2 separate regions of the Homo sapiens genome follow, and region 2 is linked to region 1. Evidence: fine-mapped expression QTL. Tissue or cell type: whole blood. Region 1 holds a variant in brackets; the other region holds the start of a gene. All regions are shown on one strand. Distances are between the middles of the regions.

What was found. PIP is the estimated chance that this variant, and not a neighbour inherited with it, causes the effect.
Region 2: it holds the start of FHL1, and the variant in region 1 is fine-mapped to the expression of FHL1 in whole blood (TOPMed, PIP 0.98).

Annotation. Positions count from the first base shown.
Region 1 is chrX:136,064,187-136,069,855 of GRCh38, forward strand. No RefSeq gene overlaps it. Among named protein-coding and RNA genes, the nearest start is that of SLC9A6, 82 kb to the left of the region's middle. The variant A/G (reference allele first, on the strand shown) is at 2,938.
Region 2 is chrX:136,194,384-136,200,052 of GRCh38, forward strand. FHL1 (four and a half LIM domains 1) reads left to right here and starts at 2,664. Exons shown (of 6, transcript NM_001159699.2): 1 at 2,664-2,751. The coding sequence starts at 2,730.

The DNA of each region.
Region 1 (5,669 bases):
TGCTGAGGAACCCAAGGCTACTGGGGATTTTGTTCTAGAGACCTCAAAATGGAACCCTAACCTAGGCTTGCCCTGGAAAATATAGCTCTGGTCCAAAGGAGATCAGCTGAGCAAGTGAGGCTCCCCCCACTATTGGACACCAAATTCTGCAAATGTTTATGGGGCTGTTCTCATAAGCCCAGCACTACCTAGGTTTTGGGAATCCAGAGACAAATCAGAGAGCAAGGAGCTCAGGGTCTAGTGGAGGAAATAAGTCATATAATCAAATAAATGACTCGACGATGTACTAGGTACAACAAAAGAAATATGTATAAGATCTCAAGGTAGCACAGAAGAGGGGGTGCTGAACACACTTGGGAGGCCCAGTAAACAGCCAAGGGAGGCTAAATTTTGAAGAGCCAGAAGGGCCCTTCCAGAACAAGAAACCTGCATGACCAAATGCCCAGAGACACAAAGCCACATGCCAGAGGCTTCATGCCACTGGGTCTTTGGGGAATAAGAAGACCTGTTATTTTCGAGCCTGAAGTACAAGGTAGAGAGTAGTGGACATTGAGATTTCAGCAAGGGCAGTTCAGGGTGAGCTTTGGGAATAAGTGTTTCGGATTTGAGCCACACTAAAGGTATGTAAACACAAGAAAGGAGATGTCTGTGTTAACTTGCCTTGATAATGCCCCTCTTGTTACCCAATCCCACTGGTTTCAACTTCATCTTCTGGGAACCTATGGTATTTCAAAGACACTGCCTGATCCCTTTCTAGACAAATTTTATGCTTTTGGAAGTGGCATTTCCCCGCTAAGTACTTTATACTGTTTTCTTACAACTTTGCAAAGCATCTGCCATATGGTATTTCTCCCAAGTGAGAGATTATTGCCTCTTTATTGGAGGGGGGGAGCTGAAATGAAGTCATCTGTCCACTGAAGTGACAGCTGCAAGCAGAGATGTACTCTCTAGGCAGCAGGCCTGCCGTCAGAGCCCAACCCGGTGCGCCTTCTCCAAGAGCGGCTGTCCCCTCCCAGCCTCCTGTCGCCGCTTTCCCTTTCTTCTTGCTTCCTGTTATATAAGAGCATTTTTGCAGAGATGAGCTCTGGGCTTGTTCTGAATATTTTAGGTGTCAAACATCCTGTTTTTCTCTGAGTAATGTGACCCTGTCAATGACCCACTGCATTTCAGAATGACATCATGGGATTCAACCGAGAATGGTTGAAGAGAAGTGATTATGGGAGCTCAGGGACCTCTGCTTGCCCCTTTACCTTTCAGCAAGTTGTTTGGAGATGTCAAACAAGAAGTCTGCAAATGAGTGTCTGCTTTGCACAAGAGCAGGGGTTGGCAGACTAGGAACTGCAGACCAAATCTGGCCCACAGAGCAAATCCATTCCCAGCTGATTTTGCAAATAAAGTTTTATTGGCATTCAGCCATGCTCATTTGTTTGAGTATTGTCTAAGGCTGCTTTTGCACTGCAATAGCAGAGTTAAGTTATGTAACAGACCCCATATGGCAGGCAAAGCTGAAAATTTTTACTATCTGGCCCTTGCAGAAAAAGTTTGCTGAACCCTGCGCTGAAGCTCTCTCCTCCTACACCCTAGGAAGAGGGCACATGGATTTAGCGTGCTCTCATCCCATGACTGAGTACCCGCCCATTCCTTTCCCCTCTTCCCCAAACACCTGATACAACAAAAAAGGTAAAGGTTGATTTTCAGCAAGCATATTGGGGCTTTCGTATGTATTAAATGTCATCAGAACTTGCACATTTATTAAATGTGTTGCCTTTCTAAGAAGTTCCCTAAAGAAATTGCACACACTTAGGCTAGGCACGGTGGCTCATACCTGTAATCCCAGCACTTCTGGAGGCTGAGGCAGGCGGATCACCTGAGATCAGGAGTTCGAGACCATCCTGGCCAACATGGTGAAACCCCGTCTCTACTAAAAATACAAAAATTAGCTGGGAGTAGTGGCACACACCTGTAATCCCAGCTACTTGGGAGGCTGAGGCAGGGGAATCACTTGAATCTGGGAGGCGGAGGTTGCAGTGAGCCGAGATCACGCTATTGCACTCCAGCCTGGGTGATAGAGCAAGACTCTTGTCTAAAAAAAATAAAAAGAAAAAAAAAGAAAAGAAAAATGAAATTGCACACTTATTCCAATGTGGCTGCCAGTGTGCCAGACATTGCAGGGAGTACTCTTCAGAGCCAAGCTATGTGACACCTGAGAAAATCCACTTCACCTTCTTTTTGGACCCAAAGTAGTGCAGCCTTGTTGGAACATCTGCCTAGTTGCCATGGATCAATGTTGGCTTATTTTTTCAAACAACAGCAAATTCAGCACTAAGGATATTCCAAGGAATTGGTTGCATGTTCTGAGGTTAGTTCCTTAAAAAGTGCTCAACATACGATGTCTTCAGAGGCAAGGTATCTTCACCCAAGGACTTGAGAGTCAAAGTTAGACTTTGGAAACAACTTTTGGAATTGTAGTGCATGTTTTCAGCATTTGGGCCATTCTATGTCTTACAAAATGAAATGTTCAGTGTGTGGCTCTCTCCTCTCTATTTAGGGACTGTATCCATACTTCAAAGGACTTTACCATCTGTCTTGTATTTCCCCATCTCTTCCCAGCTGCTGTTAGTGGATTTTGCTATGGCATGGTGCATTGTACCCATTTGGCTAATAATGGCATGAGCTGAGGGTTGAGGAAGCCCTCTGCTCAGTTCCGTTTATCACAGCCAAGTTTGGATAGGAAAGAGTCCCCTAGGAGCTGGAATGTGGTATACTATGGATGGGCATGTCAGCATTCACTGGCCCTGCTCATATCATGGACCACAGTGTGCTCTGGACTGCGGGGTGGAGGCGGTGTGGAGTTTGGTGGTTTTAGAAAACCGTGAAATGCCTACTTATTGCTCCACATTTTTGCTTTCTCATTTTCCTTAAGCCCATTCCACAATG[A/G]GGGTATTGGTGTGGTCACTCCTGAAGCAAAAAGATAACAAGTTGCTTTTCAGCTTTTTAGCTTTTTTGGTCATTTCTTACTTCTTTTCCTCCCCGCCTTTGCATCCAGAGCCACTGTCTCCCACACGAAGCGTCTTAAATTTTTATGAGCTCACAGTTGCTTCACTGATTTCTGTGCTGCCAGAGTCTGAGATGCAGGACTCAGCGGGGACTTGCTCAGATCTGTTTGTGTATATACTTCCCACTAAACTCGATGTGCTTGCATGAGTGAGAATAATCAAGTGCATTACTCAGAAGCAAGGAAGAGTAGGGCTGGAGCCACAAGAGCAAATCCCTCCCCAGTTCTCCTGGATTTGCACCACCCCACCTCACTACCCAGTTCTGGATCAATCAGAGGTAGCTTGGGTTGAGAGGCTCTTTTGTTCTGAGTTTTTTTTTTTTCCTTCAGAGACCAGAATTTAAGCTTGAGCTGCTTTCTCGCCTGGGGAGAGGAGTGGGACCCAGTCCTGATATTATGGGGCCCAGTCTTTGTGTCTTGGTGCCCAAAAGAAAGCTGAGACCCTTAGACCACTCATGGTGCAGAGAGAGGAGCTGGTCACACCATATATGTGTGTACTACACATTTCTTCATGAACATATATGCCTTTTGCACACATGGTGACTTGGTCCCACTGGACCTTTCCAAGGACAGGAATGATGTCTTCTATTGTTTGTGCAACATCACACATAGACTAGTGTCTTGGACCAGAGGACACATAGTCTGCTTAATTGTCTACAACAATATGTAAATAGCAAGCAAGTGGGACTTTGAGGCGTTTGTTTTTTTATTTTGAGCTTAATTTCTATTCTGGTAGTACTTAATAATCAAGTAATTTGTCTGTGAATCCTCCAAGGGTCGAATCCCACAGGACTTCCATCAATCAGCCAGCATCCAAAGGAACTTGTGCTTTGTTCATAAAATGCCTGGCATCACTGGTCCTTGGGAGATGGCCAAACTGGCATGGCTCGCCACGAAAGAGAGGGGTGGGGGAGGGACTCTTTGCTAGAGAGCTTTTCGGCTTGCAATTTTAAAAAAGGAAAGCGGGTAACTTCAGAACTGTTTACTGGAAGGCACAGGACCTCAGTTTTGATGCTGAGAGAGGGAGAAGTTGTCTTGGCAAGGGCTCTGTTTCGGTTTACTTCTTAGTATTCACAGGGGTAAGGAGCCCTGTTTAGTAAGTTGGACACGTTCTGGTGGGCAAAGCTTCTGGAGGTGGAAATGATGGCTCTTTGTTCTCAGTTGGGGAGGTTGGGGGGTTGTTTGAAGACAGCTCAAGGCCGGACAGAGATGCAATGCAGGGACTCTTAGCCCACATTCCTCTTCACTGCCTTCCAGAAAAGCTGAGATTGTTCAAAAGGACCATTAGACCTCCAGATAGCTCAGCCTTGCCCTGGGTTCTATCATTAGCCAATGGTCTACTGTTTTTCATGAGTGTCCATGTGTCCATGTGTTATCTGTGTCCCAGGTCTTACCTGTCACTGACTAACAAGTCTCCAGCACCGACCCAAATTTCTAAAAAGCTGCCGTCTGCCAGCCTCTCCCTTCAGCCTGCCATAGGGGGCAATTTGTTTTTTCTTCCTATATCAAGAGTCTGCCCCATCTGGAAACGTAGAAAAAGAACCTTCCCTAGTGTCCTCCTTTAATTAGTGCCAGAGGTGATGCATGCTGGGAGAATGTAGGCCACCCCTAGGGAACATCTGATGACTTATCTTAGATCCCAGCTGGGGCAGCACAGGCTCCTCACTTGGTTTACCATTTCCACTTGAGGATTGCTGCTCTCCTCTGAGGGTTACCTTTGATTGTTTGATTGACTGATCATTCACTATCAGTTCATTCATTCAACTTATCCAACATGTATTCATCCAACACTCATCCTACCACATTCCAAGCATTTGCCTAGATGCTGTGTTACAATGTGGGGCAAAACCAGACAAAGGCCCTGTTTCTATGGCATGTATATTCCTTCTGGTGAAAACAGCCAATAAACAAAAAAGAAACACACAAACATGGAAAAGATCCAAGAGTGGCAAATGCAACACAGAGAATGAAAGTAGGGTGATGTGATAGAGTGACTGGGGGGCTAGCTCAGATAGCATGGTCAGGACAACATCCATGAGCAGAGCAGACTTCAAACAGCAATCTGAAGGATAAGTAGCCAGACTTTCAAAGGTGAGGGTGAGGAGTATTCTAGGTATAAGGATGAGCTGATGGAAAGAGCCTGCTATGAGCTAGACCCGACATGCAGAGGGGAACAAAAGAGAAGAGGTAATTCCAGCTACGTGGGAGAGTAAGGTGGGAGGATCACATGAGGCCAAGAGTTTGAGATCAGCCTGGGCAGCATAGAGACACTCCATCTCCAAAAAAATATTTAAAAATTAGCTGGGTGTGATGGCTCATGGCTGTAGCCCCAGCTACCAAGGAGGCTAAGGTGGGAGGATCACTTGAGCCCAGTAATTGGGAGGCTGCAGTGAGCTATAATCATACTACTGCACTCCAGCCTGGGCAATGGAGTGAGACCCCCTTTCTAAAACTAATAATAATAAAATTAAATTTTTACAAAAAGAGGGAAGACGTCCCTTCTCCCCAGTGCTAATAATTTAGTTAGGAAGACAGACGGATAGATAGGCAGTTACAATGCAGTTAGATCAATGCTATGACAGGAAAAGCAGACAGAAAGCTCTGGAAACATAGA
Region 2 (5,669 bases), 130 kb after region 1:
AATAGGTCATAATGTATCTGCAGATAGTAGGACCATAAGGATGTGTAGATAAACCCTGAAGTAAATGATTCGCAGAGGGTCACATGGAAGGGAAACAGGGAGTTTGATACCTAGCACTCACTGAAAAAAGCGTCCGGATACTGCTAGAGTGTGAGACTAGAAGGCCTGAAATGTAACCATCATACACCAAAGAGAGTTGCTCCCAAACACCAGCCAACTCCACCAATAGTATATAAAGGTGCGTTGTAAACAGTACAGTGATTCTTAAAGATATTATTAAACATCATACTGTTAATATATAACAAGATTGACTAATATGCCAATGAAACCCGTGACTCCAGGTACCTGTGAAATAGCCAGCAAGGGTTCTGAGCCACTGATCCAAGACAGGACAAAGTTACCAACTATTCTTCCTAAGAAATTGTTTCTCATCATGCAAGGGGCTGTTTCTGTCTTGGTTTTGTGGAAGGTCTAATTCTGTGGCTTGAGGACATCTGCAGTAGGGCCAGATGTCAGAGCAGGTAGTGGTCATGCTTCATGAAGTTTTTAGGAGGGCACAGTTACCTGGTTGATGCAAATGGAAGTAACTGGAATAAATGCTATTGTTGCAGGCCCAAGCTCCCAGTCCATCCTGGCTGGTCATAGTTGACTAATTCATGGTGGTCAAAAAGTGATTCTCTTGTCTTTGAATTTTCTCTTGTATTTTAGGCAAAACAGATTTGTTTTTTGATACTTTCATAAAGCTGTCTATCCATATTCTGTTGTCACTTTTCAAAATGATCAGAAACCTAAAGAACTACCATACTTGCCTAAAAGAAGACACTTCCTGATGCATAGCTTGAAACAGGAATTGACTTCCTAAAGGAAAGTATTTGGCACACCAAGCCTATTGTTCACAGCGCTGCAAGAGAGGCATTTCAACATACATGGGCTCTTCCTAAAAATATAACTTGCTAAAATAAAAAATTCAGGGTTCATTAAGGTTAATCATCTAATAAAGTAAGAGAATTTCCTCTAGGTGAAAAGTTTCAGTTTATTTTAGGGGTGTGGTGTTGTTACAACTGGCTAATCTCCGCACCATAATTTAATCAGGCTGGATGAGAAAGAGACTAGAAAGGCGTGGAGCCAGAGCACAGTGTAGCTTCTCTTCTTTTCCCAGGCTTATTTTTTTCCTCTAACATGTAATAAATTTACTCGTAACAACCTGGCTTTTATTGTGTCATTTTCTAGCTAACTGGGAGTTACTGATGTCAGTTGTCTTTTAGAATAACTTTTCCTTAAACATTTGAAGATCGTAAGAATTGGGGAACTCATTCATTCATTTATTCATGGAGCATTTACTGCTCACCTACTGTGTGCTATAGGAACATGAAGACAAGCAAAGCACTGCCCTGGCCCTCAACCTGGTAGGGGAGATGTGTGAATAGGGCCAAAACCACTTAAACAAGACAGTGGCTATAAAGGTGTCTGTACCAGCGAGAAGGTCAGCTGCCTTCCTTGAAGTTGAGTGGCCAAAACCACTTTCAGGATTGCAGGTGGGACTATGTTTTGGAGGCTTGATGGATTTTTCAGTTATTTAGTTCATTCTTTCAAGGAATAGTTATTGAGAGCCTCCTGGGAGCTGGGCAGTGTTCTAGGCTCTGGGGCCACTGCAGTGAGCTCCAGTACTAAATCCCTGCCTTCATGGAGCAAAGCAGGAGATCAGACAGCAAGGAGAGAAATCAGTGCAATACCAGCAGACTTGAAGTAGGGAAAGGAACAACCATGACTCTGGGCACAGGGGACAGTGAGGAGGCCAGTGAGGTGGGAGTGAGGGAAAGGGGGCTAAGGGTAAGGCCAGAGAAGGAATGTGGAAGAAGGTCCTGGAGGGACTTGGGGGCTTTCTTTTCCTAGAACATGCTCCTAATAGCCAGCCCCCAGACATCTGATGGCCTGTTGAGCTATTACAACATTTTAGGTTGATGTCTTCATTTTCATTCATGTTTTTCCTTTTATTGTCCCTGATGCTGAAAAACAAGAGGTTGAGTTTGTGAGACAAAATGTCTTCATTGTGTGTGTGATGGGGATAGGCATAGTCTCCCCATCTTGTTCTGTGCTGTCTGCCGTTAAGGAGGTGGGGAGATTACGATCACTCTCCTTTCCTGTACAGTAATCTGCTGATCTCTGGAACATACTAAGGAGGACATAGAGTGACAACATCTATAATCCCCTTAATCTCTATATTCATACTGTCTAATCTCCTTGAGTTACACTGGTAACATAAGTCTATCTCTTAGAGTTACTTTTATCATTAACAGCACAAAAATGTATTATTTACAGGGCCAAATGCAAGCTCTTGAGGCATATAAAGTGGATTAATAAGGTTGGCTCAGCGTTAAGCTATGCCAGAGCCGAGTCCAAATTTTATTCCGGTACAGGGATGACTTTCTATGTGGCCTCTCTGGCTCTGGAGCTAATTTGGATGCTGAGTAGCCCCGCAGGTATTTATATGTAGCGTTTGGTATTTTTACTGGGTCCTATTCTTCTCCCTTGGATCACCTAAAATGGTTAAGAATTTTCTAGTGGGATTAAGGTTGTGATCTCTGGGGAGGGGTGGGACATCTGCTCTCGGTTATTTTTGTGTTAGCCGCTTCCCCTTAAATGTATGTTCACAAATGAGCCACAGCCTTATCAGCTGGGGTTGAGGGAAGACTGGTCTAGGTGCTGCTCCTGAACTTGGTCTCTGAGCCATGGCTTCCCATAGACACTCAGGTAAAACTTCATGCTCTTTATCTTATATTGAGCACAGTTTTGTTAGGGCAGTGAATCCGTCATTGGGCTAAAAGATGGTTTTTGATGAAATGATTTTAGTCTTGTCTGAATAGTAAATAAATTATAGCTTGTCTCTGTTTTGCCTTTGCCTTTCATGCTATTTCAAAGACAAAATATTGTTCAAGTACAATGAACAGTTTGAGTGATTTATTTTAAAAAGAAGTATATAAACATGTTACCACTATATTTTTACCTTTTTCAGGACATCTCATGAAACTATAAGAGATTGTGGGAGGAAAGGTTTTTCTGGTTAGGAATTTTTGGCTTTCTTTTTTATAAGATACAATTCTTCATCTTGACAGTGCTTTACATCCAAGGTGTTTGGAGAAGGTAAATCGAATGTGGAGCTGAAAGGAGGAACATTTGTAACTAAGAAAGTCCATAATGACCTAGCACATCTTCCCTTTTGCTGACAATGTTTTAAATCTTCCCGAAGTAACAGCTATGTTCCTTTTGATATGCTAAGTATGTTATTAATTGTTTTTAGCAGAAAAAGGGGCACATTTTGGACTCCTTGGGACATGAGCATTTTCTTCTGGTTTTGTAACCTTACAATTAAGGAAGCCCTTTGGCCATCGACAAGAAATCTATGAACTAGGGGCTGAGGGGCCAAAAGCCCAGTTATTTGAAGCCAGGAGGGTGGCTGTGGCCCTGTGGCCCTCTGCCTAAGTAACGGTTCCCTTTCTTGGGGCTGGTAAAGTCAGACGGTTAGATATAAAGAAGGCACTTCATCCTGTCTCCCAGCTTTCAGATTAAGGGATGTCATTATCTATGTTTTTTTTTTTTTTTGAAAAATCATTTTTTAAAACTCATTGCCTGTCAATATTTAAACAATGGAAATACTTTAGGAAATTTCTCTTTTTGGGGTTTTAAATATGCTGCAATGGAATGCCCTACCTTAATGAATTAATATGTAATGTCTTCCCTGTTCCCAAGTGTTCAAAAGTTGTCTGGTTTTTTTTTTTTTCCAACCCTCAGGAGCTGTTTCACAAACATGGTACCAAATGCTTGAGATTGTGGTTATCAGCCAAGATACACATTCTCTGGGTGTAGGCAAACTAGTCAGCTGTGCTAGTTGTCCTGATGAACCTTAAATGCATGTTACCTGGTAGAATAACTCTCATTTTGTTTACTAATTAAGTGACAGAATAGTGACAGAAAGTTTAAAAGTTTAAATAGTGACAGAAAGTTTATAGCATACCCAACCTTGGGTTTTAAATTGCACCAAATTCTTATGTCGTTCTTGTGTATGTAAGTCTGGAGGCTCTAATAACTGTGGCTAAATGGGACCAATTATTTATACCTTTTAGATGATTTTTGAATTCAGGAAATTGCATTTTGTATTGCATTAGGTTAATAGATTCATGAAAGCAGAGAAGAATCAGTCCATGAGACAGAGAAGTCCTCATAGAAAATCAGTGTTGCCCTGAAACGGGCTCAGTATGGGCAAAATAGAAGCTAGGATAATTGGATCCAAATCCATTTTTAGTGACTATCCATATACTGAGAGGACATTTCAAGGACAAAAACAATGTATACTCTTGACATTGAAGACTTTCTGTCTGCAAAATTATGTAGATTCAATTTCTTTAGCCTTTGGCCTTTCAAGTCGAAAACCAGGTTTGGGGTGTGGAGGGGGATCAGGTCACTTGCCATATTACACAGCCATCGATTCCCTTCACCAGCTGCTGCTCAGTGGGCCGCACAAGCCCGCCAGTCTTTTCTCAGGGCAGGGATGGAAAATGAGAGGGTAGGATGAGAGGAAAGTAATCCAACTGGATTGGCTTCTTAAAATACAGAAGATTTGAGTGAGAGTGAAACTGAACATTTTGTGCTTTTGATGACCACCAAATGACTACCTACTACTTCACCACAGCTGGAGAAACTAAAAACACATGCTCTTTTGCTGCCGGGTCAGAAATGCTTTTTTTCCCATATGAAAGAGGGGCTGTGTTGCACGTAATCTGTGCAACATTATGAAAAATCTTCATATACAGACAAAATGGTACTAGAATTGAATCTGGACTGCAGGAAGTTCAGTGGCACATAATTTTTCTTTTAATAATCTATATCGAACCCTCCTGACACCCGATATAATCTAAAATGGCATTAGTTATACATCAGTGACCCAAAAAAGATTTGTTTTTTTTCTAAATGCAGCATACCAGTGAAGTTGCTAATTACATTGAATCATTCTGTACACGTTCTATTTTGAAGGGAAAAAACACTTTCTGATTTTTGTATGAAATTGTATGAAAGACTACTTTTCAGCCGTGACTCATGAGCTCCGTCTCATTGCAGCTACTTAGGTATTTATTCCCAAATGTCTGACGACACCTCCAGGTGCATTAGCATGTCTATTACACAAGTGTCCTATTCATTGGCTAAGGCTTTGCTCCATCTGTTGAATGTTCTGAGGAAAGCATTATACCCTTTCTTTAGAAGCCAGTGTTTATATGTGGAGTCACTAATGTACTGGTAGGTTGGATTTAGTGAAGAACAGATCTGAAATAACCTGATTTTTTTCCATTTGGGTTGTTGTTCATTGTTTACACTGTACATTACACCCTTCATGGAAAACACATAGAAAAATGCTACCTACTCATGATATTCACATTCTCCTTAAATATTCATAGTTTGAGCAACTCAGGCATGAGGGAGAAGATGAACAATAGGAAGAAATACATGAGAAAATACATGTAAAAACACAAGCAAGATTTATTAAATACAAATCGACTGTAATGAGAGGTTTATAGTAAAAAAGAAAAAAGAAAAAAACAAATGTTGTAATGTTATATTACTTGTATGTGTACATGATTAAATTGAAAGCCAAAACTTTTAATTAAGATACTGAGGTT